3 separate regions of the Homo sapiens genome follow, and regions 1 and 2 are each linked to region 3. Evidence: fine-mapped expression QTL. A gene starts in region 3. Each other region holds a variant in brackets. All regions are shown on one strand. Distances are between the middles of the regions.

Region 1 (10,383 bases), 92 kb before region 3:
ACTCCTTTTCTAATACAAGCATTTAATTTTATAAATTTCCTTCCAAGCACTGCTTTAGGAGCATCCTACAAATATGTTGTATTTATATTTTTGTTCAGTTCAAAATATTTTCTAATATCCCTTGACATTTCCTCTTTGACCCATAGATTACTTAGGAATGTGTTATTCAATTTCCAAATATTTGAGGAGTAAATCTCCATATATATGTTACTGGTTTCTAGTTTAAATCTTTATGATTAAAGAATACATTTTGTTTAATTCTAGTTCTTTTCAAATTGTTAAGGGTGGTTTTGATCCAGGATACCATCCATCTTGGTAAATGTGCACTGAAGTAGCATGTGTTTTCTGCTGTTGCTGCATAGAGTGTTCTATACATGTCAATTAGGTTCATTTGATTGACGATGTTGCTCAATTCTTTTATATTGTTGTTGATTTTTCTGTCTACTTGTCATATCCATTACTGAGAGAGAAGTGTTGAAGTCTCCAATAATAATTGTGGATTTGTTCATTTCTCCTTTTCATTCTGCTAGTTTTTATTTCATGTATTTTGAAGCTCTATTATTAGGTACCTACAAATTTAGGACTGTTAGTGTCTTCTTGGTGAATTGACTCTTATCATTATGTAATGTCCTTCTATACCTTTGGTAATTTTCCTTGCTCTTTGTTTTGACTAGTATTTACATGGTATATCTTTTTCTATACTTTTAATCTACCTACATCATTATATTTAAAGTGGATTGCTTGTAAACACATTTTGGTCTCTTTTTTAAATCCAATCTGATAATATCGTGCCTTTTAGTTGGTGTATTTAGGTCATTTACATTTAATGTTAGTATTGATAGGTTTGGATTTAAGTCTACTAGTTTATTTTCTGCTTGTCCACTATGTTTTTAGTTCCTCTCTTTCTCCTTTCCCACCTTCTTCTGCATTACAGTATTTGAATATTTCTTTGATATTCCATTTTATCTATTGCATCTTTGTATAGGGTGTGTGTGTGCGTGCGTGCACACGTGTGTGACTGACCTAGGGATTACAATATACATACTAAAGTTTTCATGTCCATTGAAAATTAATATTTTACCACATCAAGTGAAATGTAGAAAATTTACTATTACTGCCTTTAATATTATAGTTGTCATCTGTATTACATTTACATATATAGAAAATTCCACCAATGTTTTACAGATGGCCTTCGACTTAGTTTGCCTTACGATTTTTTTTGACTTTACATTGGTACAAAAGCCATATGCATTCAGTACACTCCTTGATTTTCCATGGGGCTACATCTAGATAAACCCATCCTAAGTTGAAAATGCACATTCAACTTACAATATTTTCAACTTATGCAGGAGTTACTGGGATGTAATCCCACTGTAAGTCAAGGGGCATTGGTAATTTTTAATCACAACCATCACACATATTTTTAAGAACTTAAAAGTAGAAAAAATACTGTATTTATCCAAATGCTTACAATTTCTGTTTCTCTTCTTTCCTGCAGTTCTATAGTTCTCTCTGGTATCAGTTTCCTTTTACCTGAAGAAGTTCCTTTATCCTTTTTTTGGTAAAGCAGATCAACTGGAGATAATTTTTCTGAGTTTTCCTTTACCTGTGAATATCTCTATTTCATCTTCATTCCTGAAGCATATTTTTGTCACATATAAAATTCTGGTTTCAGTGCTTCAAAAATGTTATTCCACTGGCCTTTTGGCCTACATGTTTTTTTCTGAAGTTGTTGCAATCATTGTTCCCCTGTAATGCATCATTTTTTTTTCTAGCTGATCTCAAACAATTTTATTTCTTTAAATAGCCTTTTATTTTTTTGAGACAGAGAGTCTCTCTCTGTCACCCTGGTTGGAGTACAGTGGTATGATCTCAGCTCACTGCAACCTTCGCCTCCAGGGTTTAGCCAATTCTCATGCCTCGGCCTCCCAAGTAGGTGGGATTACAGGTGACTGCCACCAGGCCCAGCTAATTTTTTTTTAAATTTTTTTGTATTTTAATAGTGACAGGGTTTCACCACGTTGGCCAGGCTGGTCTCAAACTCCTGACTTCAAGTGATCCACCCACTTTAGTCTCCCAAAGTGCTGGGATTACAGGCGTGAGCCAGCACCCAGCCAACATTTTTTCTATGTGTCTGGTTTTTAGTAGTTTATGATAATCTGGGCATAGATTTCTTTATTGTATTTGGGGCTCACTGAGCTTCTTAAACCTCTAAGTTTGTCTTTCACTAAACTTGGGAAGCTTTCAGCCACCTTTTTTTTTTTCCAAATTTTTTTTTTTGTACCACACTCATCTCTGTATGAAACTCCACTGGCACAAATGTTAGATATTTCTTGGTATTATCTCAGGGGATCCCAAGGCTCTGTCCATTTTCTTACAGTCTTCTTCTTTTAGTCTGATTAGATAATTTCCATTCATGTAATTTCTGTCTCCAAATCCACTGACTCTTTTCTTTGTCACAAGCACTCTGCTTTTGAACATATCCAGTGATTTTCTTCAAATTTCTAATTATTGTATTTTCCAGTTATAAAATTTCCATTTGGTTCTTTTTTATAGCTTCTTTTTCTTAACTGAGATTATTATTTCTTAAAGCATGGTTATAACAGCTGTTTTAAAATCACTGCCTAATATAAAACATCTGGGTAATCTCAGGGTTGGTATCTTGTCTCTTCCCTTGAGACTTAATCAGACTTTCCTGGTTCTTTTTGTGTCAAGTAATTTTGTATCATATCATGAACATTTGGGATATAAGATGCTATGAGACTCTGGGTCTTGCTCCAATTCTATGAAGAACAGGATGTATTTGAATCTGTCCTAGATGTGCATCAGCCAGGAGCCAGCCTGATATCTGGGTGGGCTATCTATCCCACAGCTACTTGGTATGCTGTTTAGGGTCAGATCTATGTTGTATGGCTCAAGGGTGGGCCCAGAAGTTCATACATAACATCATGCGGTCCCTTTATGAGCTCCCTCTTATCTGTGAAGGGCCCCACTCTCTGACACTCTACTACCCCACCTCCATCCCCCACTGCCACCCGGTCCTCTGACTAGAAAGTCTTGTACTTCCTGCAACTAGATCTGTCTCTGGGGCCAAACAGCAAGAGAATTAAAAAAAGAAAAAAGCAATAGGAATCATTCTACACTGTTTGGACCATAGTTCCTCTGATCAGAGAGGATTCACTTCCCTTGGATTTTTAAGTGTCTGGTTGGCTGCTGCTGCCACCACAAAACTGCAGGTTCAGAAGAGAGGATCATATGGCAGAGCTGGGAGGGAAGAAAAACAAGACAGAGCATTTCTTCCACTTTCTCTGTCTCATAGAGCCTCTCTTCCTGCTCCTTGGATCAGAAATTTCCCTTGGAATTCTTGTTGTTTGCACCTGTGCACAGTCCTAGGATTCATGCTGTCTTTGAATTCAGACTGGGAGATACAAAAAGTGGGGAAAGGATCCAGGAAACTCATTGCCAGAGCTTTTGTACTTAAAAGTTCTATTTTCCTTCTCCAGTCTATTTGCTATCATTTACCTTTCAGAGTCCTCAGACAGCTTCTCCAGGCACTCTGCCCAAGGTTTTTAGACACATTCAGTAGGAGAGAAAGGACAGTATATTTACTTCATCTTAACCACAACTGGAACCTACTATCATTCTTGGTTCTGTTGGATGCAAATTCTAAGGTGACAGTTACTTGTATTTTGATGATATTGTTCTACTGTTTTCTGGCTTCAGTTGTTCTTAGGAGGTCTGCTATTAACACAAAAGGCTACCTATTGTATGAATTCTACATGCATATGTACATGATATTTACATGATATTTTTACACGATATTCTAGAAGAGGCAAAACTATGGTATCAGAAAGCAAATCAGTGTTTACCTAGGGCTGAGGAAGGAACTGACTACAAAAAAGCATGCGGGGAGTTTCTGGAGTGATAGAAACTCCCCTCTGCCTTAAACGTGATGACGGTTACACGACTATATATAGTTGTCCAAATTCATCAATCTCTACACTTCAAACAGGTAAATTTTACTGTATATAAATTATACCTCAATAATGCTGGGGGCGGTGGGGGGAGTAAAAAGAAAGTATGGTATCAGTCTGTATTGTTCTTTTATAGGTAATGTGTCTTTTTTTCCCAGCTGCTTTACACGTTTGTATTTGGTACTGCGTAGTTTTACTATCATGTATTTAGTAAGATTTCTTTTTTAAAAAAATTTAAACTCCTATTTGATATACATTGTCCTTCCTGTTTCTGTGGGTTTATGTCAATTCTGAAAAATTCTCAGATATCATCATGTTGACCACTCTCTTCCCATTCTATCTAGAACTCCAATTAGATGCATGCATAACTTTTTCTTTCTAGCTTTCTATTCATGTCTCAACTTTTCTTTCATATTTTCCATTTCCAACTCTTTCTGTAGTACCTTTGGGTTATTTCTTTAGATATCTCATTTACTAATTCTCTCTCTTCTGCTCCCATATACCATTTATCTATTAATTTTTAAATTTCAATGATTTTTCTAAATTCGGTCATTTCTGACATTTTCTGGATCCTTATTCATTTTCAATCTATCTTTTATTTTTATTTTTTTTTGAGACGGAGTTTTGCTCTCGTTGCCCAAGCTGGAGTGCAATGGTGTGATCTTGGTCTACTGCAACCTCTGCCTCCCAGGTTCAAGTGATTCTCCTGCCTCAGACTCCCGAGTAGCTGGGATTACAGGCATGTGCCACCATGCCCGGCTAATTTTCTTGTATTTTTAGTAGAGACAGGATTTCTCCATGTTGGTCAGGCTGGTCTCAAACTCCTGACCTCAGGTGATCCACTTGCCTCAGCCACCCAAAGTGCTGGGACTACAGGCATGAGCCACTGCTCCAGGCTATCTTTTATTTCTTTAAATGTTTTATGTATAGTCATTTCATACTCTGTTTTGGAAACATCAGTATCTACAGTTCGTAGAGATTGAATATTTTTGTTTCTGTTGGCTTGTCTGGTGACCTGTCTCCCTTTGTGTCTGGTAATTTTTTTTTAACTGTGAGCTTACATTTATTGTACTTGATATTTATGAGTTCTAAGATTCCTGGATTAAGGATGATTTTCTCCAGAAAGAATTTTTATTCTTCTATGGATGACAAGTTCTAGCCCTACCAAATTAAGGTCTTAAATTTAATTATTGGTTGAGTATCTTCCCAATTGGATGAGTAATTTAAATTTGAACTCTATGCCCATAAATTCAGAGCTACTATTGTAAAGATTCAGGAGAAACTAATATACTTTATTTCTCAACCTGTAACCAGCATAGACAGACAGATTTCCTAGTTAGATTCTTTAACTAGCAGGCTTACGATCCATAGAACACCCTTTCTCCCAGAAGTTATGGCCTCTTTGGGCATTTGGCTTTGTTGGGGCCTAAGGGTTGGCTTTCTCACTTTGTGTGAGCATAGGGCCTAGGTTTCCATTACCCCATGATTGTTTTACTCACAAATGTTAACGTCCAGAGCCCCTGTTTTCTGGAATCAGCATTTGCTTCCAGGTCAGCCAGAGCTTCTGGCTTTATTTATTATTCTTATTTCAGATTACTACTCGATTATTTGGT[C/T]ACTGAAGATCTCCATTCTCTAATGAGAAATGTAAAGTGCATTTAAAAGTACATTTATTGTAATTTATCCAGCCACCGGTATTTTATAGCAGCAGGGTATTTTAATATACCTAGTCTACCATATTGCCAGAAGCAGTAGATGGCTATGTAAAGAAACAAAACAGGTCCTTAAATGTCAAAGTAAAGAGTGATTTCCATTGTATTTTTATGCCAAGATACTTTTAACTGTTTTCTCATAATAAAACAGGTTTCATCTTTACCATTAGCACCTTCATTATTACAGCAGAATGTTGCTTTTATGACATCTATTTTTACAAATGAAATCAAGAAATTTCATCCAACTACATACAGCAGTCAATCATGTTAATGAAGACTTTCCATGAAAGTAATCTACAAGAAACATTAGGTACTTGAAATCTCTAGATCACTTCAATTTTGTGCTTTTGTTTTAAATATCTCATAAAAATATTTATTATCCACGAATCAAGTATTTACTGAATATCTTCTGTATACAAGGAACCCACTCTCAGCTCTTCAGGGTATACAAAAATAATTAATATGCAATTCTTGCTCAAATTAAGAATTTGATTTGGTGAGCCAGACTATTACTGCATTATAAAATTAACTTTAATACACAAAATATTGTCATACAAAAGTTAAAATGTTCAAAATTCCAAGAAGAGAAATATCACATTCATTTGGGGCATAAAACTACAACAGAAGAGTAAAAGAAGCTTCACTAAAAAGATCAGATCAATATGGGCCATGAAAGATGATTAAGATTATATATACTGGTAAGAAACGACTAGGGACAGAGAAAGAAATTCTGTGTAAAGTGATCTGCAAAAGCAAACGCATAAAGGCGAAAAAAGTAGGGAATTTGTGCAGAAAATTGTAAGTAGCTGAATTTAGAACAAACAAAACTCCAGATACACTGACTCTCATTTAATCTTCAAACATGCCATGCCCTTTTCTAATTCTCAACTTTGAATACTATCTCTTCTTGGAATGTCCTCATCCAGCCCCATAATACATGGTAAACATGGATTACTTCTTCAGGAAAGCAACTGCCTAGCAATCAGATCTGGTAAATGTGGATGACCCTAACTACATCATCGTCTTATCATGGAACTTCTTTATATCTCTGTTATGGCAATTACCGATCCATACTGTAACACAGTATCTTTTTCCATGCCCATCTCACTGATTAGACATCGTCTAGACTAGACTAGAGTATGAGCTTCTTGAGAGCAAAGACCATGACTTATTCTAACAAAGTGGCTGATATATGCATTATTCTAAAAACAGGAGTGGAAGAAGTATAGGAAAAAAGGAACGAGAAAAATTCTGTAAATTTCCTTGCATGTATTTAACAAACTTTGACAGGTAGTGCAGAACCAGAATATGTCACTGGCTAAGAGAAAAATGTAGCGGCAGACTCTCTAAGGCTGTGTCCTGTCCCACAGAGTAGCTACTAGCAACATGTGGCTGCTGAGAACTTAAAATATAGCTAGTTCACATTCAGATGTGCTTTAAGTGTAAAACACACATATTTCAAAGACTTAGTATGAAAAAATGTGAAGTATCTGAATAAATTTTATATTGATTACATGTTGAAATTATGTTTTTGATATACTGGGTTAAATAAAATGTATTCCTGAAATTATCCTCACCTGTGTTTCTTATTACTTTTCTAATGTGACTACTAAAAAATTTTAAATTACACATGTGGCTTATATTACATTTCTATTGGACAGTGCTACTTTCAGAATTTGAACCTAAAAGATTAGAAAAACTGAAATTGTAATATACTATAGAGGACCAAGAGCTAGAGCTGGTTTTACTGAAATGAAAAAGTTTGACTCCAAAAATGAGCTTGATTGAAGGAGTCCAATAAATAAAAATGCAGATCCAGAAATCAGAAAAGTCTGTGATGGAAATACAGAGTTAGAAAATCTCTTTAGAAATTAGATAGTTGGAATTTTGGAAAAGCAGGTGAATCCCCAGAGAAAATTTCAGATCCCACAGCTTAGAAAAGGGGAGGAAGAGATAGCAGGTGATTTTTTTTTTCCTCAAAGGATAGGATAGGAGGGGCTGGTATCCCACGAAGAATCTCTGAAATCATTTCCCACAGAAATATGATGCTAATTGTGTTATAATTTAGGGATATTCTCAATATATGTGAGGTTGAAAATAATAGGGACCTAAATATATTAGAAAATATTTTTTCCAAGGAAAGTACATTCCAAACTCCAAACAGGTAACTCTTTACCTTTTTTATTTGTAAACAAACAAGCTTGCAAGTTAGCTTCTGTCATAACTAAGTACATAGATAGGTTCAGACATGCAAAACTTTATTATTGCTGCTCTAATAGAGAAAAAAAGTGGTTATGCACACCTCCCCCTCTAATAATAATGAAATTTACATACTGTACTCAGCCACTGGAACTAATACTTGAAAAGAGCCCCCAAAATATAGTTCAAGTTCAAAATCCATGTATCTTCCACATCTCTTATTTTTACCAAAACACAAGCAATCTGGAGCTGTTATAAGCAAAAGACTGTTTTAACAAAACTCAATTTCTTCAAAATAGAGCTATGTACATACAAAATGAACATACCATTTTAAATTATAAAATACATTTTCCTCTCATTTAGGAGATTTAATAGAGAACTGTTTGTATTCCCAGTGATATTATAAAGCAGGTAATCGAGAAGGGCAAGCTGACTACTATTCTTATGTGTTCAGACAGAGCTCAACTTATTGGACAAAGGCTTATCTTATCTTTTGTAGATGAGAGTTCTAGGATATCCCATGACCTTCCCTAATATTACAAACCTTAGCATTATAAAATTATTTTACTTTTCCCAGAATAAAATTAGAAAGCCAGATACTCTGCCAAATAGGTTTTTTAATTGGAAATTTTAGCACTCTTGATTTATTTGTCAAGAATCTCTGGACTTACAGTGTAGCTGAGAACATAGGTATACAGTAATTACAATGTAGGTGAGACCCTAACCTGTCATGGTGCTTCACAGGGAGGGTGACTTTTACCTAAGGAGAGATCACAGGAGGTGGCATCTACATTGGGACTTGAGTAAATAAGGTAAATATTTAAGAATTAGTGAATAGTCCAGTTTGGTTAGAATTTAAGGCATGTGGAAAGAAGTAGCAGAAAATAAGAATGGAAAAGTAAGTTGGATCCAGAGTGTGGAGAGCCTTGAATGGCAGGCTGAGAAGGAAGACTGGGCTGGACTGGGTGAGCATCAGGAACCAGAGAAAGTTTCTGAACAATTTATCAGAAGTATATCTTGGGCAGACTGAAATCTCAGAACAGTGAGGTGGATATAACTGTATAGCAGTGGCATAGCAGCAGGGATGGTAAAAGCAGCAAGAAGTAGAGGAAGTCCGAGCAATGGTGTGATGTGCCTGCTTTCTAAGAAATAATGCACAGGGCTGTTTTCAAAAAAAGGAAACACATGTGCACATGTTGTTTTTTCCCTAAGATCATGAGGCCTCCTCTTGAGCAACTAGCCTAGCCTGTAAGGAGGAAAACAGTTTTTATCATGTAAGTACGGAAATCTGCTTTTTCCTGAATGGATTCTGGGCTGGACAGCCTGAAGACAGCCATCTGCTCGCAGCAACAGCAGCAGCAGCATGCTTGCTTATATGCATACAATCTTCCTTTGCACTGCTGGTTGGCTCAGCTCAAGTTGCCCACCCTAGGATTACTTTAACATATGCAGTAAAAGTCACATTCTTCTACTCATTGAATCAAGGCTGGAAAGCTTGAGAAGAAACATTCAATCACTGACAAAATAAAGTGGAAAAGGAATCCAAAGGAGGGAAGGAAAGAAATAAGACAGCAGAGAAAGGGATGGGAGCAACGGAAACCAAGAATGAAGCAGGAAGACAAGACATGAGGGAGGAGGAGGAACTGATCATAACCATTACACCTATGTTCACTTAAAAGTAATTGTTATTTAGAGTAAAACTTTATTTCCAAAAACTGTGTGGATGTGGAGGCGGTAACAAGGTTAATTATGTCTCATAATTAGTAATTAAGATTATATAACAAAGCCTTTGGCAATGTTCTATTCTAATGATGGAGGGCCAACATCAGAGAAATATAATAGTGCATTAGCATAACCACATATGCAAAGTACACAAAACCATTTCCAAAGTTAACTTGTCATTGAATGATTAAATATGAATTCATAATTAGAAAAATCCACACTGTAATTTATTGGCTCTCCTGACTGTTCTGGTTCATTAAAAGTTGATTACTAAACAGTGACCTCTAGTGGCCCATAATTTTCCAATGCTATATTGTTTCTCTTAAAGAGTCAGCATAGATTTGAAGAACCTATTTACCCTAAATAAGGCAATTACTTTGAAGATGTTAATATTCCTTTTCATTATAAAGGGAAATATTCCTTTTTCCTATACTTAGCTCCTTAAAGTATATTCTGGCAAATACAAAATGCCAAAAAGCTCTCCTGCTTCTACCCAAGTGTCACACATTCATTAACAAATTATGATCGAGCACCTATTTGTGAAACCGTGGGGCTGGGTGTTTGGGGTATTTTATTAATAATTAGAAACTGACTTCACTAATTCTTTACTATCCAATAAGAAATGAAATCAACATTAATACAATTGTCATGCTACTATCTATTCACTGCCTATACACACGGGACACACTGAAAACATACTTGATTTTAAAATTCAAAGACACCAACAATTTCTGATTCAATGCATACCAAATTACTAAGGTTTATCTTAAAAGGCAATA
Region 2 (10,383 bases), 96 kb after region 3:
TTAGCCAGGATGGTCTCCATCTCCTGACCTCGTGATCCCCCCACCTCAGTCTCCCAAAGTGCTGGGATTACAGGCGTAAACCACCCCACCTGGCTTGTCTTTTTTCTAATGCATATATTTTGAATGTTGCTGGCATATCTCATGCCTTTTTTAATGCCGTGATTTTTTCACTTAATCACTTACAATTAGTTCTGTACCATTTTATCTCATTGAGGAATTTATGCTGTTTATGATATTTCTCTTTTGAATCAATGTTGCATACTCCCTGTGTATATCTAGGCATTTTTGCAGTCATTTTTTTCCTAAAGGAACTTTTCTAGTAACATGATTTTTAGAAGCTACATTGTATACAGAAGAAGGAAAATGAATGCTTCTACCCATTGTACTCCTACCTTCCCCAGTGATGTCTGTTGTTGTATGTTTCTGGATTAGAAAAATTCATAGGCTCATTTGATACTTTTTTGTGGGCGTTTTTCCTCACTTAATTATATTTCTTGGGAATCCTCCTATATCCATATGTAATCAGCTCATTTATTTTCAGTGCCTTTCCTACTCCAAGGCTTGTCTCCCTTTATTCATCTCCAAACATCAGTCCCCTCTTCTCTATTTCTTTCTTTCTTTCCAAGTGGTGTCTCATATGCTTTCCTCAACCTAATGTTTCTGTCTTTTTCTCAATGTTTCTCCAGGATTTATTATCTTGATGTTTTTCTAGGTAACTTTGATGTTATTCTGGTCTTCTGTATGTTCTTTCTCAGAATTTCCTTTATGATCAAAACTTATCCAACATGTTTTTCTGAAATGTTAATCCTATTTAAAAGGAACACTTTGTGGCTTTCTCCCTTCTCTGTCACCCTTGTTTAATTTCCATTTTCTCATTTATTTTGCTGTTGCAGTAGTAACAAGAATGATGCCCACTGCTGTTGTAATTCTTCAAACTAAAGTATGTGACATATTCATTGCTTTAGTTTCTCTCTTAACATACATACAGCCTCCAGTGGTATCTGTGACTACAATTAACTGGTTAACTAGATTCAGGTATATCTCCTAGAAGCAATGTATTTTGGCAGTTTTATATAACTGGTATTTTGTCCCATTGTCCAAAGTGTTGCCATGTTCTCCCTGCCATTTTTCAATGTTTGAAAATTGCTGTTATTAACTTTAAGTGTAATAATTTTCTTTACACTTGGTAATGGTGGACTAAAAGACAAGATTTCTTGCATTTCAGTGTGTCCTGTAGCATTGAGCAGCAAGTTCTAGCCCGGTGACCAGGAAAATAAAACAGAGAATCAACCTTTGGTTTGGACACATTATGGTTTATTGACCCTTCTAATTAGATTTATTATTATTGCAGTGGACTCCTGCATAATTTCCTGATGTTCATCTTTTGTGTTCCTTCCAGTATTATCCACTCTAGCATACTTTCATGTGGGAGCTTAGATATAAGACAGTTACATCCCAAAGGAGCCCATTCTCTGTATCTTTCCAGGTTGAGAGACTTCTACATTTATTTTTTATGTATGCCCAACATGCCCCTCTCTAAGTAACTTAAGAACTATTGTTTAGTTTTAGTTTTCCTTACTCAAAAGCAATTTGAAGTGTAGTTCTATATTTCTGACTTTTTACTCAGGATTGTATCTTGCCCCCAACTTCTTGGTAGGCTCAGTTCTCAGGCTGCTAACAAGCACTTATGTGATAGGCACTGTGCTAAATACAGGGATGAACTCACTTAATACAGACACAACCTTTTGAGACTGTTTTTGTTATCAGAGGAGAAAATAGAAATGAATAACTTTTCCAAAACCATACAGCTAGCAAATTATCTTTTCTGGTATTCTGACCTCACACCCTATGCTCTTAGTTATTACAAAATACTACACCTATAATAACTACCATTCATGGAGTGTTTGCCATGGATTAGGCACTTCAGATGCTGCTTTTAGGTTCATTACCTAATTTAATTCTTCCAACAACTGTGAAAGGAAAAAAATGGGCTCAAACAGGTGAGGTAAATGACTTGTTCACTGATTCCTCAGGTTTCATATCCGTAAAGAGATGAATAGTGTCAAATGTTTTTTACCTTGACACAGAACAAAGTAAATTGTAAGATTTGTCCCAGCATGCAGATACACCAGAAACTAAATTTCATGAAACACTTACCCTTAATATACTCCAGTACTTTCTCTTCTATATAATTACAAAATAAATGCCAGTCATGAACCACTAAATTGGTTTTATCACTTCTTACTGGGTTTGTAACCTGTAGTTTCAACCATTCCTTTGGAGGCTAAAGGTGACTAAGGTTCGTCCAGCTTCAGTATTCTGTTGTCTACAATCAGGCCAATCAGAATCATAGAACATGGATAATCTAACCTTGTGGCTGATGCATAAATTTTTGTAATATTCCTAGCAAATGGATATCTAGTACCTGTTTTAAACATCTCCAATTTTCAATATTTAACATGGTATTTAGTCCATCTGGAAAATACAGATTGAGGTATGTATATATTCATGTTGTAAGTAGAAAATGTGTTAGCATTAGGTGAGACATGGGTGGTCTGTTTGTGCATATATAAACATCTTGGTGCTAAAGGTCTTTTTACAAAATTTGCCAATTGGCTGCAGGCAAGACTTGCCAAAGATGAGAGATTAGTGAATTTAGTGGATTTAGGGGGAGGCAGATGTCTAAGTAAAACAAATAAAACACTTACATTGGAGGTATAAATTAAGTTTTTTGAATTTTGATATATGTGAAAATTCTTCAGAGGTGAATTTGTAATGCATGTCTAATATTTTAAATATTAATTTTCTTTAGTCTATAACTCCCTCAGTTGTTGGATCTGCTAGACATTCAGTATGTGCCACCTTTGAAAATAATACTCTGTGGTCAATAAAAAATAAATAACAAGTATTTAAAAACTCACTGTGTTTAGTGAAATTAAATTTTAATCAAAACACATTTTTATATTTGATCATATGGATAGTTAGATTATCCTTGAGAAATTGGATAGCAAATTGCATTTTAATATAGTAGAAACTCTACTATTCAATTTATGTAGATTTTTATAGCATTAGGCTGTAGTTTAATTTAGAAATAATTTGACATGCTTGTTAAAATACTCATGATTTGTAAACATATTAAATGTATATTTTAACTGTAAAATACAATAAATAAACAGTATGCTGTATGAGCCTAATATTAAACTATTTGCTTATAAATCCGCCTTTTTTGTTATTTCCCTTTAGGTTGGATGGAGTACTGCTCGTGATTATTACACGTTTTTATGGTCCCCTATGCCTGAACATTATGTGGAAGGATCAACAGTCAATTGTGTACTAGCATTCCAAGGTAAGGACTGAAAACTGCAGAACTCAATGAAACTAGATGTCTTATTGCCATTAAAGATGTTGTACTCCATTGTAATGATTTGTTCAGGTATCTCCAGGGTACCAAAGTTGAATTAGTTAGTGTCTTTACTTAGCAAAAGCCCTAAGAATGTAACTGTCTGGTGTAGGCCACATGATATTTTATGTAGACATTTAAAAGTTATTGGTTGTTGTCTTAACTTTCACTGAAGAGTGGGTTTCTTTTTAGGTACTAATTTTTGGAGATTTTTTTTTTTCAAGTGAGAAAACAATACAATAGTAATAACAGATATTAGAATAATGTAACAAAAAAGAGGTGAGGAAAATAGTCCAGATGCAAACCACAAACATGATTAACAGAACTTATAGTTATTTGAATTCTGTCATGTGTAAGTTCCTTTATTATAAAATGATAAAGTAATATAAAATTCATTTTTGTGTTAGCTTGGCATTATTTACAAAATTTAAAAAATACTCTTATTCAGGTAATTCTGACATATGCTACAATATGGGTGAACACTGAGGATGTTATGATAAGTTAAATAAGCCAATCACAAAAAGAAAAATACTGCATAATTCCGCTATATGAGGTACTTAGAGTAGGGATAGACACAGAAAGTAGAATGGTGGTCTGCAGGGCATTCAGGTTCCCTCAAGGGAGGAATGGGGAGTTATTGTTTAATGAGGGTAGAGAGTTTCAGTTTTAAAAGATGAGAACAATTTTGGAGATAATGGTGGTGGTGGTTGCACAACAATATGAATGTGCTTAACATTGAACTATACACTTTAAAATGCTTGAGATAGTAAATTTTATGTGTTTTTTAGCACAACTTAAAAACTTGAAAAAAAAATAACACTTATTCAGAGATCTATCACAGAATTTGCTGCAGAGTAATTTTGTATTATAATTGTACTGACTTTAGGATTGTATTAAAGTGAATTCTTACCCTTGTATATGTCATAGATTTCTTTTGGTCTGGTGAAGTTTATGGACTCTGTCTCAGAATAATATTTTAATGTATATAAAATAAGACATAAAATTGCAAAGAAAACCAATTATATTGAAATAATTAAAATATCACAGTAACAAATTTTTGATATATTAATACATGTGCTTCAAAATCTGTGTGTTAACAAGATGTATTTTATTGGCAGATTTAATCACTGCCATGATTTCCAAGTAAGATAACATTGAGATACCTGTAACAATTGTAATGTGGTATTAACATATAAGTAATTCCTGTTAGTGACAAAAATCACAAATACTGATAGTAATCAAAGTACATGCTAAAATTTTAGTTAGATGTTAGTAAAAATAAAAATATAATGTTTTTCTCCATTAAAGTTGATGGATGACCTGAATTTTCTGTATCCTTTAACCCCAAGTTGAACATTCCCTAAAACTGCCTCTTTGCTATTGAGAACTTTATTTGCCTTTATGTTTAAAAAAAAAAAATTCTAGGACTTTATTGCTTTCCCCTGGGGCTGGCTATTAATAATTAAGACTTTTTCCTCTGGGTTTCTCATATCTTTAAGCAATGGGCTCTGTTAAGAATGTTCTTATGTTAGCAGAAAGAAGTTTACATTGTATGAATCACTACTTTAAAAAAATGTGCTCAGGATTATGAGATGAATGATTTAAAATAAAGTTTATTGTCTCACACATTTTCACATATTTTAATGCAATTTTAAAATTTTGTAAATCTTTTTTTTTTTTTTTTGAGCCGGAGTCACACTGTGTTACCCAGGCTGGAGTGCAATGGTGTGATCTCAGTTCACTGCAATCTCTGCCTGCTGGGTTCAAGCGATTCTTGTGCCTCAGCCTCCTGAGTAGCTGGAACTACAGGTGCTCACCACCACGCTTGGCTGATTTTTGTATTTTTAATGGAGACGGGGTTTTGCCATGTTGGCCAGGCTGGTCTCAAATTCCTGACCTCAGGTGATCCACCCGCCTCGGCCTCCCAAAGTGCTGGGATTACAAGTGTGAGCCACCATGCCTGGCCCTAAATCTTTAAAATGAAACCCCAAATCATTTCTCCCTTATCTGATCTGGTTTACCATATTCAGAATGTTAAAAATTAAATTTGTTTTAACAAACTAAAAGAAAAACCTTTAAAAAACCAAACTATACTAAAATATTTATTTAATGAAAATACTTTGTTAGCATGCAAATACTTACTTCAGAAAGGAACCAAAAAACAGTTTGAATTTGGGATAAACATTTCTAGTATTATTTATTTTAGA[A/AT]TTTTTTTTTTTTTTTGAGACGGCTTCTTGCTCTGTCTCCCAGGCTGGAGTGCAGTGGCGCGATCTCGGCTCATTGCAAGCTCCGCCTCCTTAGTTTTCGCCATTCTCCTGCCTCAGCCTCCCAAGTAGCTGGGACCGGAGGCGCCCGCCACCATGCCTGGCTAATTTTTTTTGTATTTTTAGTAGAGATGGGGTTTCACCGTGTTAGCCAGGGTGGTCTCGATCTCCTGACCTTGTGATCCGCCCGCCTCGGCTTCCCAAAGTGTTGGAATTACAGGCATGAGCCGCCGCACCTGGCTGAAAAATTTTTACAGTGATCCCTCCCTTGAGTTTCAGTCAGTTTTTGTTATAGTCGCTAAGAGAGAGCATCAGCCTGTTTTAAGGGCAGCATAACTTGGAGCCTATGCACATAGCTTTGGTATAGTGATTTCCAAACTTAACTTTAATTTGGAATCCTGCGTGCTTTAAGACACACAGAAATTTATGTCCCACCTCCAGATGTTGTGATTTAATTGGTCTGTGGTATGGCCTGGGTTTTAGAATTTTGAAAAGATCAACAGGTGATTCTGTTATGTAGAAGTTTGGGAACCAGTGGCATGGCAGACAGTTTTCAGCAAATAATTGTTAACATTATCTAATTGATATGGTCTTATCTAAGTTAAAATGTCCTGTTTTTTTATCAGGCAATATCTGACTTGGATTTTGGTGACATGTGCAGAGCAGCCTTCTAAAATAACTAGGCTCAGATTAATCAGCTTCAGATAGTTTAATTTTAAAAAATTAACATACTTTTTTGGAGCAGTTTTAGGTTTACAGAAAAAATTGAATGAAAAGTAGAGTTCTCTTGCAATCCCTTACACCACCCTTCCCTGCTTTCCTTTATTTTAACATCTTGTGTGCTCCATTTGTTATAATTGATGGACCAATATTAATACACTATTATTGTCTGAGTTCATAGTTTACATCAGGGTTCACTGTGTGATGTAAATTCTGTTGATTTTGATGAATGTATGAAGACATATACCTACTGTTGCAGTATCATAAAGAACAATAACTTCACTCCCCTAAAAGTCTCCTGTGTCCCACCAACTCATCTCTCCTTCCCTCCTGGTAAAACCCTGGCAACCAGTGATGTTTTACTGTCCCCACAGTTTTGCCGTAAAATGTCATAGAGTTGGAATCATAACGATATGTAGTCTTTTCAGATTGGCTTCTTTTACTTAGCAACATGTGGTTAAAATTCCCTCATGTCTTTTAGTGGTTTGAATAGCTCATTTCTTTTATTACTGATTAATATTCTATTGAATGGATGTATCATAGTTTATGAATCTATTGAAGGAGATCTTGGTTGCTTCCACGTTTTGGCACTTACAAATAATGCTGCAATAAACACTCTTGTGCAAGTTTTTGTGTGGATGTAAGTTTTCATTTCATGTGAGTAAATACCAGGGAATGTAATTAATTAATTGTATAAGAGCATGTTCAGTTTTGTAGGAAACTGCGAAACTGTCTTCCAAAGTGGCTTGTACCATTTTATATTCCTACCTGCAATGAATGATGAGAGTTCCTGTTGCTCCACATTTTCAGCAGCATTTGATGGTGTCATTGCTTTGGATTTTGGTGGTCTGTTTGTTTAAAAACTTTTTTTCACTTTATTCTGAATTTTGCATATGTTTGGTCTAAACATTAATTGGCAATGTGAGTTCATGGAACTTGCATATATAAAGAAATTTCCTTCTGTTCTGTGCCAGGAAACCAGTATGCAGAGGATAAAACTTGTGGTGAAATATGGGCAATGATTTAGGTATTCATAGATGTTTTTTGGATAAGGAAATGTTGTAAGTTATATATGTAGTTTATCTTTTAATAGCCTTTTTTAGATAATAAAATTTAGGTGTGTATTGGAACCGGTTTTGTTACATTTAAAACTTCTTTCCTGAAAGCTGTTGGTTTATTTTTAGTCATTTTTATTGTGATTGGTTTCCCCTTAAAAAATAAGTTAACTGCCAGGTTAACTTATTTTTTAAGTGGTGACTCACACCTGTAATCTCAGCTGTTTGGGAGGTTGAGGCAGGTGGATGGCTTGTGACCAGGAGTTAAGAGACCAGTGTGGGCAACATAGTGAGACTCCATCTGTTGAAAAAAATTTATTCAATTTGTTATAGTGACTATTGCTTTTGTTTATTAGGGACTTAGGAGTAAGTTTAAAAGTGGTTAAAAAGTAGAGAAAAGCATCCAGTTTATTTCTGTTAATACTTTAAAAACATTTTTGGGCCAGACATGGTGGCTCACACTTCTAATGTTAACATTTTGTGAGGCCAAGGAGGATGGATTGCATGAGCCCAGGAATTTGAGACCAGCCTGGGCAATTTGGCAAAACTTCATCTCTACAAAAAATACCCCCAAAATTAGCCAGGCATGGTGGTGTACACCTAAAGTCCCAGCTACTTGAGAGGCTGAGGTGGGGAGGATCACTTGAGCCCAGGAGGCTGGGGTTGCGGTGAGCCGAGATTGTACCACTTCACTCCAGACTTGGCGACAGAGTGAGAACCTGTCTCAAAAATTCATGGGCACTAAGCCTAAATGCAATATGTTTTACAAGTTTCTGAAAATTCAACAGTTCATTTTTATTTTGAATTTTGAAATTCAGAAATAAAAGCATCTCCGTGCCTAGAACTTTTTTGTTATATAAGGAAGTCAGGGAAAGCTTAGTCATTGAATATTAGAGTTATAGAAGGGCTTTCAAGCATAATGCAAATCACTTTGCTCATTTTGTGGATGAGTAATGAGAATCCTGAAATGCAAAACCCAAAACATCTAACAATACCTAAACGTGATTGTTTTCCTAAATGAACCCTTATTTATTTATTATAATCTTGTTGAATACTAAAGGCACAGTCTGTAAAATTTGACTCGAAAATTTAGTTTTCACTTTTTCCCATTTTATTTTCAGTATCCATCTGACAAGTTTTTCCAGGCAGCTTTAAATTGCAGCTCTGAATAATTATGTCTATCTCAAATGGTTTTGAACCATATTTTTTAGCAGTTTATTTTAGTGAAGTTTTTGTTTTTTAAAGAATCAGACCTTGAGGCCGGGCACGGTGGCTCACACCTGTAATCCCAGCACTTTGGGAGGCCGGGGCGGGTGGATTACCTGAGGATAGGAATTCAAGACCAGTCTTGCCAACATGGTGAAACCCCGTCTCCACTAAAATACAAAAGAATTCGCTGGGCGTGATGGCGTGTGCCTGTAATTCCAGCTACTCGGGAGGCTGACGCAGGGGAATTGCTTGAAGCAGGGAGGTGGAGGTTGCAGTAAGCTGAGATCAGGCCACTGCACTCCAGCCTGGGTGACAGAGCGAGACTCTGTCTCAAAAAAAAAAAAAGAATCAGACCTTGAATACCTAGTTTGTACAGTTTCTAATGTCTTGATGCCAGAGCTGATTAATTATGCTATATATTTGTTTTCTAGTTAAGCTTTTAAATAAGCCTAGTGGCTATTTGGAAGTTGGTATGAATTAGTAAGTTTTTAGTAGCTATTAGGAGGGTGGATTTTTAAAATCTTTAAAAATGTATGTTGCCAGATACATGTCTATGATATTTATTTAAACTTTGTATTTTGAAGTAATTTTAGATGTAAAGAAAACTTGCAAAAGTAGTACACAGAATTTCTGTATGCCCTTTGCCCATCTTCGTGTCATGTGAGCATCTTACATGACCATGGTACATTTATTTAAGAAACCAATAGTTTAACAGTGGTACAGTACTATTGACTAAAGTACAAACCTTACTCAGATTTCACCAGTGTTTCCATTACTGTTCTTTTTCTGTTCTTAGATCCAGTCTTTAATTCCTCTTTGTATTTAATTGTCATGTTGTCTTAGTCTCCTTGGTTTCCTCCTTATCTTTCATAACCTTTACTTTCTTGTGAAGTACTGTTAGCATTTTGTGGTGTTGTTTGTTTTGGTAGCTTGTCTCTCATCTTGGTTTTGCTCGATGTTTTCTCATGATTAGATTGAAGTTATGCATTTTTGGGAAGAATGCCATAGAAACAGTATTGTACCTTTCTCAGTACATTTTATCAGGGAGTATGTGATGTCCATACATCTTATTACTGGTTATAATAATCTTGATTGCTTGTTTAAGATTGTGTCTTCTGGATTTCTCCACTGTAAATAAAGTTATTATTTTTTTCCCTTGTAATTAATGAATATTATGAGGGAGCTACTTTGAGACTGTGGAAATATCTTGTTTCTCCTCATATTTTCAGCCACTAATTTTAGTATCCCTCTGTGCATCTTGCCTACGATTATTGTGGTGTTTGCCTAATGAAGTTCATTACTTGTATATTTATTAGTTGATCATTACGTTAGAAAGAATTTTCTTCTTCTCCATGGAATCATTAATTTCTTCTGTGAAATAAAGTCTAATACCATATTTTTTTTGTTACTTAAATTGTTTCAGCTTTAGCCATTTGGAGCTTTTCAAGTGGGCTCCTGTATTTTTTTTTGACATGCTCCACCCCTCTCTTAATTCCTTTTTGTGGACTGCTACTTTGCTTTAAAGCGCCACAAGAATTTCTCTTATCTTATAGATTGTCTGCCTCTCCTCTCTGTTTTTTTTTTTTTTTTTTTTTTTTGAGGCGGAGTCTCACTCTGTCGCTCAGGCTGGAGTGCAGTGGCACCATCATGGTTCATTGCAGTCTTGACCTCCTGGGCTCAAGCGATCCTCCCGCTTCAGCCTCCCTAGTAGCTGGGACTGCAGGTACATGCCATC
Region 3 (10,383 bases):
GTGATACTGGTTCACTGGTTAAGAAACTAGCATTAGTGTCTATTACTGAGGACGAATGAAAAGAAACTAGCCAGAAAACTTGGCAAAGTTTGTTTCTAAATTTATAGATGCAAATTTACCGATTATGACCTCTTTCTCCAATGTAACAAGGGGAGTTATCCGTATCTTGATAACCTTAAGTGCTATCAAAAAGCAGGTTTCACTAAGTGTCAAAATGCAAAAATTGGTAACAAGTTAATTATTTTACATTTCTGAGGCTTCTTTTCTATTCAAAGTAATGCATTTTCATTGTAGAAAACTAGAATGAAAAAGTATACAGTTGTAAGGGGAAGCAATCTCATTACACAAAAATAAAAAAAACATTTTGCATGGACTTTCAGTCTTTTGACTGCATTTTTCATTATATCATAAGGTTATATTTTCTATACAATGTATGTCTATTTTATCACATAATACATTTTTTATATCTATTTTATCACATAATACTACGTCATAAGCACTCTATCTGCTTTACTATTAACAGTTACTAAACTAAGGGTGACGACTTTCTCTATAAAGGCCTTTACGGTTTCAGTCAACTTATTTTAGTAATAAATACGCTCCTTATGTAATTTCACAAGTTTAGGGTCAACTTTTAGGCCCCGGACCATGAGCAGCTTTTCAGAACTTCATGTGCAGCCCTAGAAGCTAATGTAAAGGGAAAAACTGCCATTATATATTTGATTTATCCAATGAGTTATGCTACTTTGAAAGTAAATTTCACATATACAAAAAGGACCAATAATATTAAAAATTGTATTCCTGTTTCTATACATGATGCTAATTTTTCCATTCTACCTTTGGTCAGGTGGTCACCTCAAGATGATCTGATGTGATTTATTTTTCCATGTACAAGCTGTAGAGTCACAACGTGACATTTTGTAGAGGGCCTATAGCTGTAGATTTTCTTCTCTGTACAAATAAGTCTGAAACTAAACTTAATTACCTTCTAAAATAACATACACAATTTTATCAAACAGGTGATGAAATAGTAATACATGTACACTTTAACATTTCTCATTCTTCTATTTCCTTTTCAATGCTTTAAGTATTTTAAAATTAGGCTTAGGCACAGTGGCTCATGACTGTAATCCCAGTACTTTGGGAGGCTGAGGCAGGAGGATCAGTTGACCCCCAGAGTTCAAGACCAGGCTGGGCAACATGGTGAGACCCCATCTCTACAAAAAAAATAAATAAATAAATAAAGCCAGGTGTGGTGGTGTGCACCTGTGGTCCCAGCTACTTGGGAGGCTGAGGCAGGGGGATTGCTTGAGCCCACGAGGTTGAGGCTGCAATGAGCCATGATTGCACCACTGCACTCCAGCCTGGACAAGAGAGAGAGAGAGACCCCATCTCAAATAAACAAACAAACAAACAAACAAACATTTAAAAATTAAGATGTGGCAGGCTGGGCACAGTGGCTAATGCCTGTAAGCCCAACACTTTGGGAGGTCAAGGCAAGAGGATGGCTTCACGCCAGTAGTTCTAGACCAGCGTAGTAGGCAACTAGCCTTGTCTCAAAAAACATTTTTTTTTAAATTAGCTAGGTATCGTGGTGCACCCTGCAATCCTAACTACTTGGGAAGCTGAGGCGGAAGATCACTTGAGTACAGGAGTTCAAGGTTGCAGTGAGCTAAGTAGGTGCCATTGTACTCCTGCCTGGACAACACGGGGAGACCTGTCTCTAAAATGTATTTATAAAAAAGTTAAAAAGATGTGCTACTAACCGGCAACTTTCAGGTTTCATTTTTTTAAACAGTAAATTATATAGCTCCTTATAATATTATCATTCATATGATATAAACATCTTAAACATACTACAAATATCCAACAGAATTCAGAACATCACACATTACTATCTGAACATGGTTCTTTTTCTTAATGTCATTTGACTCCAAACTTGCAGGCAGATTTTTTTCTACTCTTTAAGAATCTAATGTCAGAAAAGTTAACACTTTTGCAGTAAACTAAAATTAACAGAAATTTAAATGTTTAAAACAATTCCAAAGAAAGGCCGGGCACAGTGGCTCACGCCTGTAATCCCAGCACTCTGGGAGGCCAAGGCGGGCGGATCACGAGGTCAAGTGATAGAGACCATCCTGGCTAACATGGTGAAACCCCGTTTCTACTAAAAAATACCAAAAAACTAGCCGGGCGTGGTGGCAGGCGCCTGTAGTCCCAGGTACTCCGGAGGCTGAGGCAGGAGAATGGCGTGAACCTGGGAGGCGGAGCTTGCAGTGAGCTGAGATTGCGCCAATGCACTCTAGCCTGGGCGACAGACAAAGACTCCGAGGGAAAAAAAAAAATTTTTTTCAAGAGAAAAAAAAATTGCTTAAGTGATTTAACCACTTCATCACAAAAGAACTATTTAAAATTTATCAGAAATCTATATTCTGACAATTACCTTTGGGCCAAAGAACCCAAAGTACAAGACCATATGCCAAAGTAGTCTAATCAGCACTCTGAGGTAGGCCCTCCCAGTTTACAGAGGCACGTATTACAGTCTTAGGCCTCAGGCTCTTTCACCATGAATTGGTAAGAACTTTCATAACTCTAAAAGGTACATCAAGGGTTCATTAAAATACCATTAGAACACCTTGTAAAACCACTAAACAGCAAATATGTCTTCCTTGGCTAATGGGAACTGAAAGAATTGTGAATTCATGTGAAAACTGGTGCTACTGTGGAAAAGTGTCTATTCTTTTAGGGTTATCTCAAAAGTCGGAAGCATTTTTGTAGCTCAATATATGAAGCTCAAACAGTGGTTACATTCAAGTTTGGCATATTCTGAGTTTTTATCTTGTTACTGTGGTTCTGTATCAGACATCTGGTCTCTTGCATCTCACCGAGCCTCTGTTCTTCTCCAGCCAGAAAGGAAATTCAGAGGTTTCACTGAGGGGGAGAATGGGAAGCTGTTAAGAATTGTAAGAGAAAGTTCTTACAATTCCTGGCCAGCCACAGTGGTTCATGCCTATAATCCCAACGCTTTGGGAGGATCACTTGAGCGCAGGAGTTCAAGACCAGCCTGGGCAACATGGCGAAACTCCGTCCCTACTAAAAATACAAAAATTGGACGGGCGTGGTGGCACATGCCTGTAATCCCAGCTACTCGGGAGGCTGAGGTGGGAGGATCACCTGAGCCCAGGAGGTCGAGACTGCAGTGAGCAGTGTGACTGGGCCACTGCACTCCAGCCTGGGCGACAGAGACCCTGTCTCAAAAAAAAAAAAAAAAAAAAAAAAGGGCGGGGGGCCAAGGGGCTCAAATCCTAACCCACTATTTTTTTTTTAAGCAAAGATTAGAAAAAATTAATGCCAAGGTTTTTTTTGTTATTAATCCTCAGTATGATCTTGCTAAACGATGCATTGTTACAACTCTCAAACTTTCAGTTTGAGGAAGACAACGGCAGTGCCCCCACAAATCAACCAATTTTTCAATTAAAGAGGAGTCCTGGTGTGATAGAAAGTTAAGGAATTAGGAACAACTGATAACAACTTTCTAGGTCTTGCTGGGAATATCCTGATTCACTCATCCAAGGGGCCTCATGTCCCTCGTGCGGAGTATGAAAGACTGTATTAGATCTCCGTGGATCTTCATCCTGGCTCTAAAAACTGCCTCTTTGTAAGTTCATGGCTAGCTTCCACAATTTACCATGGTATGAGAGGAGGGAGGCAGGATTAATTCTGCCCACAATCTTGAGGACGCTGAACGTGTTTTGGTTCATAATTTGACAAAAATGACATTTTTTTAGGTTACAGTAGAGGGGGGAAGCCCGTCTTGCTGGTCAAGGGTGACTGAAACTTTGCTGAAAGACTTACTGCCTGGCTTGTACAGCCACCGCTTGTGTAATAAGGCCATCCCCTCGGACTCAGGTGGTTAAACATCAGGCCCTGCTGCCCAAGTGTGTCCCCAACCCAAGGTGCACCCTGGGGGCGCTGAAAGACCAGGGGTCGCTGGGGTGAGTGCGGGTTGCTCCTGGAGTTGGGCGCTCCAAACGTCCTCGGAGTCCTAACTCCAAAGCAGCATGCCGGGGTCCCAAATACTCTCTTCTCTTCAGCCCAAGCTCTTCCCCACCTCTTCCTAAATCCCGAAAAGGGCGCTGAACCCGTTCATCAGGAGCCCGGGAGAAAGGGAGGGAAGGCAGAGGGGGGTACTCGCGGAGTGAGTGGCGGCCGCAGAAAAGGACAGGCCTTTAGTACCAGCCAAAATATTGTTTTTTAAGCCCCAGCCCAACCGCAGGGCCTCCCGAGAAAAGACTTCTTCGGCCGTCTGGACAGAAGAAGCGAGCGGCCGAAAGAAGGACAAGGGGGAGGAGGCGTGAGGTCCTTACCCGCTGCAAAGCTGCCGGCTGCCGGCCGCAGCCGCCGGCTCCAGTACCGGAGACCGGAGGCAGCTCCGAGGAGCCGTAAGGAGGCTGCCATGCTGCGCCCGCCCCTCTCCCCGCGGTGACCTCCGCCGCCTCCCGGAGGGCCCACAGACTGCGAGCGTGTGCAGCGGGACTGGCTGGCTCGCCCACGGAGAAGGGCGCGCGCGCACGCGCTCTCACCGCTCGGGGGCGGGTGCCCACGCGCGAGGGAAGGAGCGCGGAGCCGAGAGGAGCGGCCTGACGCGGCAGGGCCTGTCAATCCCTTTACGGACAGGGAAGCAGACCAATCAGAATTCCCAGGTCCGCAGCTGTGCGAAGGACCAATAAGAGGCCTTTTTGAACAGTGACGCCAGGCGCCCTGGCGCTGCCCCCAAGCTCGTGCCTCATTTACAGCCTGCGGGCGGGAGTCTCCTTGTTTACCAAAGCAGAGGGCGTGTGGGAGGCGGGGGCCGTCGCTCGCTCCCGCCTCCTCGGAAACCTTGTCCCCACAACCGCTGCGTGTTAAAAAGGACAAAACTGACTCGCAGCTTGAAAAACACTCAGAAAGCTACCATGTGTGTAATAACTTTTAAATTCATTTGATTTTACTTAACACAACAGTTTCTCAATACTAAAAATAGTAGGAAAAGAAGTTGGTAACATTATCTTTGAAGGGAAGAGTTACTAGAAACTTGCACTTTCTATTTCAAGGCATATTTCTCTAATCTTTGAAAATTCTACACCCTAAATCCATTTTGTAAGCAAAACTAAATATAAAATCCAGAAAGTAGTAGTATATGTATGTGTATTAGAAAGACCTTTTTTTTTTTTGGAGACGGAGTCTCTCTGTCACCCAGGCTGGAGTGCAGTGGCGCGATCTCGGCTCACTGCAATCTCCGCCTCCCGGGTTCAAGTGATTCTCCTGCTTCAGCCTCCGGAGTAGGTGAGGTGGGACTATAGGCCTGCGTGCGCCACCACACCCGGCTAATTTTTTTGGCACTTTGAGTAGAGGCGGGGTGTCGCCATTTTGCCTAGGCTGGTCTCAAACTCCTGGCGTCAAGTGATCCGCCCGCCTCGGCCTCCCAAAGTGCTGGTTATTACAGGCGTGAGCCACTGCGCGGTGCAGAGAGACAGACATTTAGTCATTCTTCTGTCAATGCTTAGTGTACATATTTGAGTCTGTAAACCCCTTGGGGGTAATTGCAGGCCTTCTCATCTCCACTGACTCCACCAAAGGGTTGGAAGCCATGACCACACCAAAGCAAGACTATAGCCTTTGGAGAATGGCAATACAGCAGGAAAGAGAATGTGTATGGAGTAGCTAGGGAAATGCGAACCCCAATCTAAGTAGCACAATCAACAAAATTTGACTTTGACCTTTTTTTCAACTCAGTAACCCATGGAGTTGAAAGCAAAGGAATTGGATCATTTCCATCTGGGCTCTTTTCATGTTTCTGGGCATGCTGGCAACGTTTCCAAAAACTTAAAAACTTGTACAGAGTGCAAGGTCCCTATCTGTAACTGGGAGGAAGTTAATGCCCTTCTTTGACCATCACTCCACCCCAACCCTCTACCCAACACTAAATGAAAAGAAGGAAGGAAAGGGACGAAGGGAGGGAGGGAGAAAAAACTCATTTCAACAATTAGACCTTCTCCTAGATTTGGGTCCCCACCCCTACTAGGGGTAAATTAGTTTCTGGAGCATTTCCCACCTGTGCCTCTCTTCCTGGTTTCGTCAGGTTTTAGCTGGAATAGATCTCCTGCAGGCAACAAATGTGGGCCTACAGGTTTCTTTTTCTTTTTCTTCCTCCAGCACTACAGGTTTCTATAATTAACTCCTGAACTGCAATTGGTCTTTCAACTGTGTCTCCTCCAAGAAGCCCTGCATTGTCTTCTCCAACAATGTCTCCTCCAAGAAGCCCTACATTGATTCATAAACTAAGGAATTTTCATAGGTTTCCATGATTTTAAAGAAGCGTTATGAATTTTTAAGTAATTCTTACTGTTTGAAGGTGCTTGCAGATATTATTGTACTGGCAAATGCAGTTCCTGCCTATGGCTGGTTAGCTTTCTTCATTTGATTGCCCTCCTGATGCCCTTGTTTGAAAGGCACTGCAACTCCTCCCTGAGTCTTTGCCACGCATTTTTGTTTGTAATTGTTTCAATGCCTTATAGTGGCCCCTGACTTCCGCTTCCAGGAAGATGGAGTAGATAGGTTTCTCCCTATTCTTCTAAGTACAACTAAAAACTCAACATTATATATAAGATAAACATAGGGAGACTTTGAAAGGTGGAGAGAAGTCACACTGGCTAGGGTCCAGAGAGCAACACGGTGGGAAGTTCCTTGGGTTTTCATGTAGCCTTATATACCCCAAACTGGGTGCTGGAGAAGCCAAAACCAGAAACCCCAAAATGCCAGGAAGCATAGATAGACAAAAAGTGCCCCAATAAAAGGCTGCTCTTTCTAGCCAAGTGATGAAAAAGGAGTGGCCTAGCAAGAAAGGAAACATTTAGAAGATAATCACTCCACTGTAGACAAACAATACACACATACATACACACACTGACCCCACCCCATAAAGCAAAGGCTGAGTTGGGAGCCTAGACTTCCACACTCTCCAGGTTGTGATGAGACACCCCAGCATCCTAACACCCCAATCGCTCTACTCCTCAACCCCTCTAAGGTGATGTCAGAGAAAACCAAAGAGAGGTATGGGATTTTCATCTTCAACTGGGCAGTAACAAGTAATCCTCCACACACATCCTTCCCTACTCTCAGTGTCACTGGAAACCACAGGGCGACCCTGGATTTCCACTCCTACCTTACAGTGGTGAGGTACCCCTCCCTTTCCCTGCTTAGATGGTGTAATTGGAGGTGTATTGGAGAGTCAGAGCTTTCATCACTGCCCAATGGTAAGGATGTCACACCCCTTCCCCTCCATGGTGTCACTGGAGGCTACATGGGGGCAGTAAGGAGCCATTCCAAGCCCTCTCAACTAGGGAAGTATCAGTGGACAACTAGTGGGGAGCTGAAACTCCCACCATTGCCCAGCAGTAACAAGGAACCACCCACCCTTGGTGTCAACAGAGGTGGAATAAGGAACCTAGACTTCTACTACCAGTTGCCATTTACAAGTTGATGCCCCCTGCCAGAGCAGTGTCAAGAAAAACTAGTTAAAATAAAAGGTTTAAATAATATCCAAAATATCATAATACCCAAATGTCCAGATTTCAACAAAAAATCACTCATGATACCAAATTTCAATTAAAAAATGACTCATGATTCCAAAACCCAGGAAGATTTCAAGCTGAATAAAAAAGACAATAGATGCCAACACTGAGATGACAAGTTAAAATTATCTAACAAAGATTTGAAAGCATCCATCAGAAAATATTTCAAGAAGCAATTAAAACATGCTTGAGGCCAGGCATGGTGGCTCACACCTGTAATCTTAGCACTTTGGGAGGCCGAGGCTGGCAGATCACTTGAGGTGAGGAGTTCAAGATCAGCCTGGCCAACATGGTAAAACCCCATCTCTTCCAAAAAAATACAAAAATTACCCAGGTGTGGTGGTGGGCACCTGTAATCCCAGCAACTCAGGAGGCTGAGGCAGGAGAATCACTTGAACCCAGGAGGCGGAGGTTGCAGTGAGCTATCACGCCACTGCACTCCAGCCTGGATGGCAGAGTGAGACTCCTTCTCAAAAAGTAAAATAAAACAATAAAACATGCTTGAATTAAATAAAAAGAAATCTCAGCAAAGAAACAACATATAAAGAAGAAATAAATGGAAATTTTAAAACTGAAAAAATGCAAGAAATACAATTTTTTAACTCAACAGCAGAATAAAGAAAAGAATCACTGAGCTAGAAGATAGAACAGTAGAAACTATCTAATCTAAACAGAGAGAAACTAGACTGGGATTTAAAAAGCTACGAAGCGCTGGGCGAGGTGGCTCAAGCCTGTAATCCCAGCACTTTGGGAGGCCAAGGCGGGCGGATCACGTGGTCAGGAGATCGGGACCATCCTGGCTAATACGGTGAAACCCCGTCTCTACTAAAAATACAAAAAAATTAGCCAGGTGTGGTGGCGGGCGCCTGTAGTCCCAGCTACTCGGGAGGCTGAGGCAGGAGAATGGCGTGAACCCAGGAGGTGGAGCTTGCAGTGAGCCGAGATTGTGCCACTGCACTCCAGCCTGGGCGACAGAGCGAGACTCCGTCTCAAAAAAAAAAAGCCACGAAGCTCAGGGGCATGTGTTGTGACTCTTAACAAAAGATCTAACATTCAGCTGGGTGTGGTGGCCCACGCCTGTAATCCCACTTTGGGAGGCCCAAGCAGGTGGATCACCTGAGGTCAGGAGTTCAAGACCAGCCTGGCCAACATGGTGAAACCTCGTGTCTACCTAAAATACAAAAATCAGCTGGGCATGGTGGTGGGCGCCTGTAATCCCAGCTACTCAGGAGGCTGAGGCAGGAGAATCGATTGAACCTGGGAGCAGGAGGTTGCAGTGAGCCGAGATCGCGTTACTGCACTCCAGCCTGGACAACAAGAGTGAAACTCCGTCTCAAAAAAAAAAAATCTAACATTCCTGTCATCAGAATCTCAGAATCTGGGAAGAAGAGGAATAAGACTTTCCCAACAATACCCACACTATCTAATCATTTTTACGCCTATTCCTAAGATATCATTCTCTCTGTACTCACCTCCCTGACAATGCAGTACTCTTTCCCTTTCCCAGAGCACTCTGAGTTCCTCAGGTTCTCTGCTTTTCTTCTTTCCTTCCTTTCTCTTTTCCACACATTCTAATACTGCTTCTACACTCCCCACTTGTTAGGACTCAACTCAAAGTGACTTTCCTCAAGAAGTCTTTTTCTGAATAATATATAAGCAGTCATAAAAACAATCCAGTTTGATTAAGAAACTACATTTAAAGTCACTTTCAAAAACTATCAGCATCAGGTTTGGTTGGATAAAACAAAGTCCAAATGATAACAATTTGGTTTTTCCTCTCATAAAAGTAGTGTGGATGTAGGCAGAACCAGGGCCAGTTTGACAGCTCTGAGTTGTCAAAATTCCAAACTTCTCATTTTGTTTTACTGTCTAAAATGATTTTCTAACCTCATAATTACTTCATGATCAAAGATAGCTGCTAGTGGTCCAACCATCTTGTCTGAGTTCCAGGCAAGAGGAAAGAAAAGGAGGGAAAAGTAAAGGAAAGAGGTGTGTCAGCAAACTGTTCTCATTTTCAGAAGCCTCCCTATAAGTCCCACCCCACAATTGTCCTTCCCACTGGCCAGAACTTAGTCACTTAGCCATAAGATTTGGATGGCATGACAAGTCTTTGTTCTAGGCAGTTTTAAAAATTTTGGAACACAAAACACCGGTAAGATAATTGAGTTGTGTCCTAAGATAAGAGCAAATCTAAGTACATATTATTGCATTTATTTAAATGGATTAAAGTTGGAGACATCAGTATGAACTCATGCTTAACTTAATATAGATACAGATGGTTACATATAGAAATATTTATCAATGTGTATATAGACACAGGTTAGTATACACATGTCTCTTTGCTCTGTCATCTGAGGGGGCCTAGAAGCAATTATAATCCAGTAGCAACAATTGTGTGTTTTCCAGTTCTATATGTCTACCTTTGACTGTGGTCAACAATTATCTTGTAATTGGATTGCAAGATCCTTGTAAATATGGATTACAAAAGGTTATTGAATAAATTTAATTACCATGAAATAAATATCTGTTGATTTTGCCAATTATTATTATCATACAACCCAATTTATATTCAGAGTTATTTTACTTACTATGTGGCCCTCAACATGCAAATTCAATATGAACATATAATCAAATGAATTAACTATATTCTTTTGTTTCTGTTTCATAAAACATATCCAAACATGTTAATGTTCATAAATACTATTGAGCAATGCACTACATCTTTCATTATCTTTTTTCTTTTCTTTTCTTTTTCTGAGACGGAGTTTCA

Direction of the effects. Positions count from the first base shown, and alleles are read on the strand shown. Sizes are in standard deviations (SD) of each study's normalised expression. Not every link is listed here.
For the expression in naive CD4 T cells of the gene that starts at base 4,553 in region 3, allele A in region 2 goes with a lower level than allele AT (large effect, 0.79 SD a copy in Schmiedel 2018).

What was found. PIP is the estimated chance that this variant, and not a neighbour inherited with it, causes the effect.
Region 1: its variant is fine-mapped to the expression of HIBADH in whole blood (TOPMed, PIP 0.98).
Region 2: its variant is fine-mapped to the expression of HIBADH in naive CD4 T cells (Schmiedel 2018, PIP 0.95). The same link has a PIP of 0.9 or more in B cells.

The regions. Positions count from the first base shown.
Region 1 is chr7:27,566,653-27,577,035 of GRCh38, forward strand. All of the region lies in intron 4 of HIBADH (3-hydroxyisobutyrate dehydrogenase), which reads right to left. Among named protein-coding and RNA genes, the nearest start is that of TSL, 44 kb to the right of the region's middle. RefSeq lists a silencer at 1,855-2,042. The variant C/T (reference allele first, on the strand shown) is at 5,588.
Region 2 is chr7:27,754,788-27,765,170 of GRCh38, forward strand. It overlaps TAX1BP1 (Tax1 binding protein 1), which reads left to right. Exons shown (of 17, transcript NM_006024.7): 3 at 3,244-3,346. Among named protein-coding and RNA genes, the nearest start is that of TAX1BP1-AS1, 19 kb to the left of the region's middle. The variant A/AT (reference allele first, on the strand shown) is at 5,608.
Region 3 is chr7:27,658,331-27,668,713 of GRCh38, forward strand. It overlaps HIBADH (3-hydroxyisobutyrate dehydrogenase), which reads right to left and starts at 4,553. Exons shown (of 8, transcript NM_152740.4): 1 at 4,368-4,553. The coding sequence starts at 4,458. All of the region lies in intron 2 of LOC105375211 (a long non-coding RNA gene), which reads left to right. RefSeq lists an enhancer at 4,290-5,107 and a silencer at 4,323-4,742.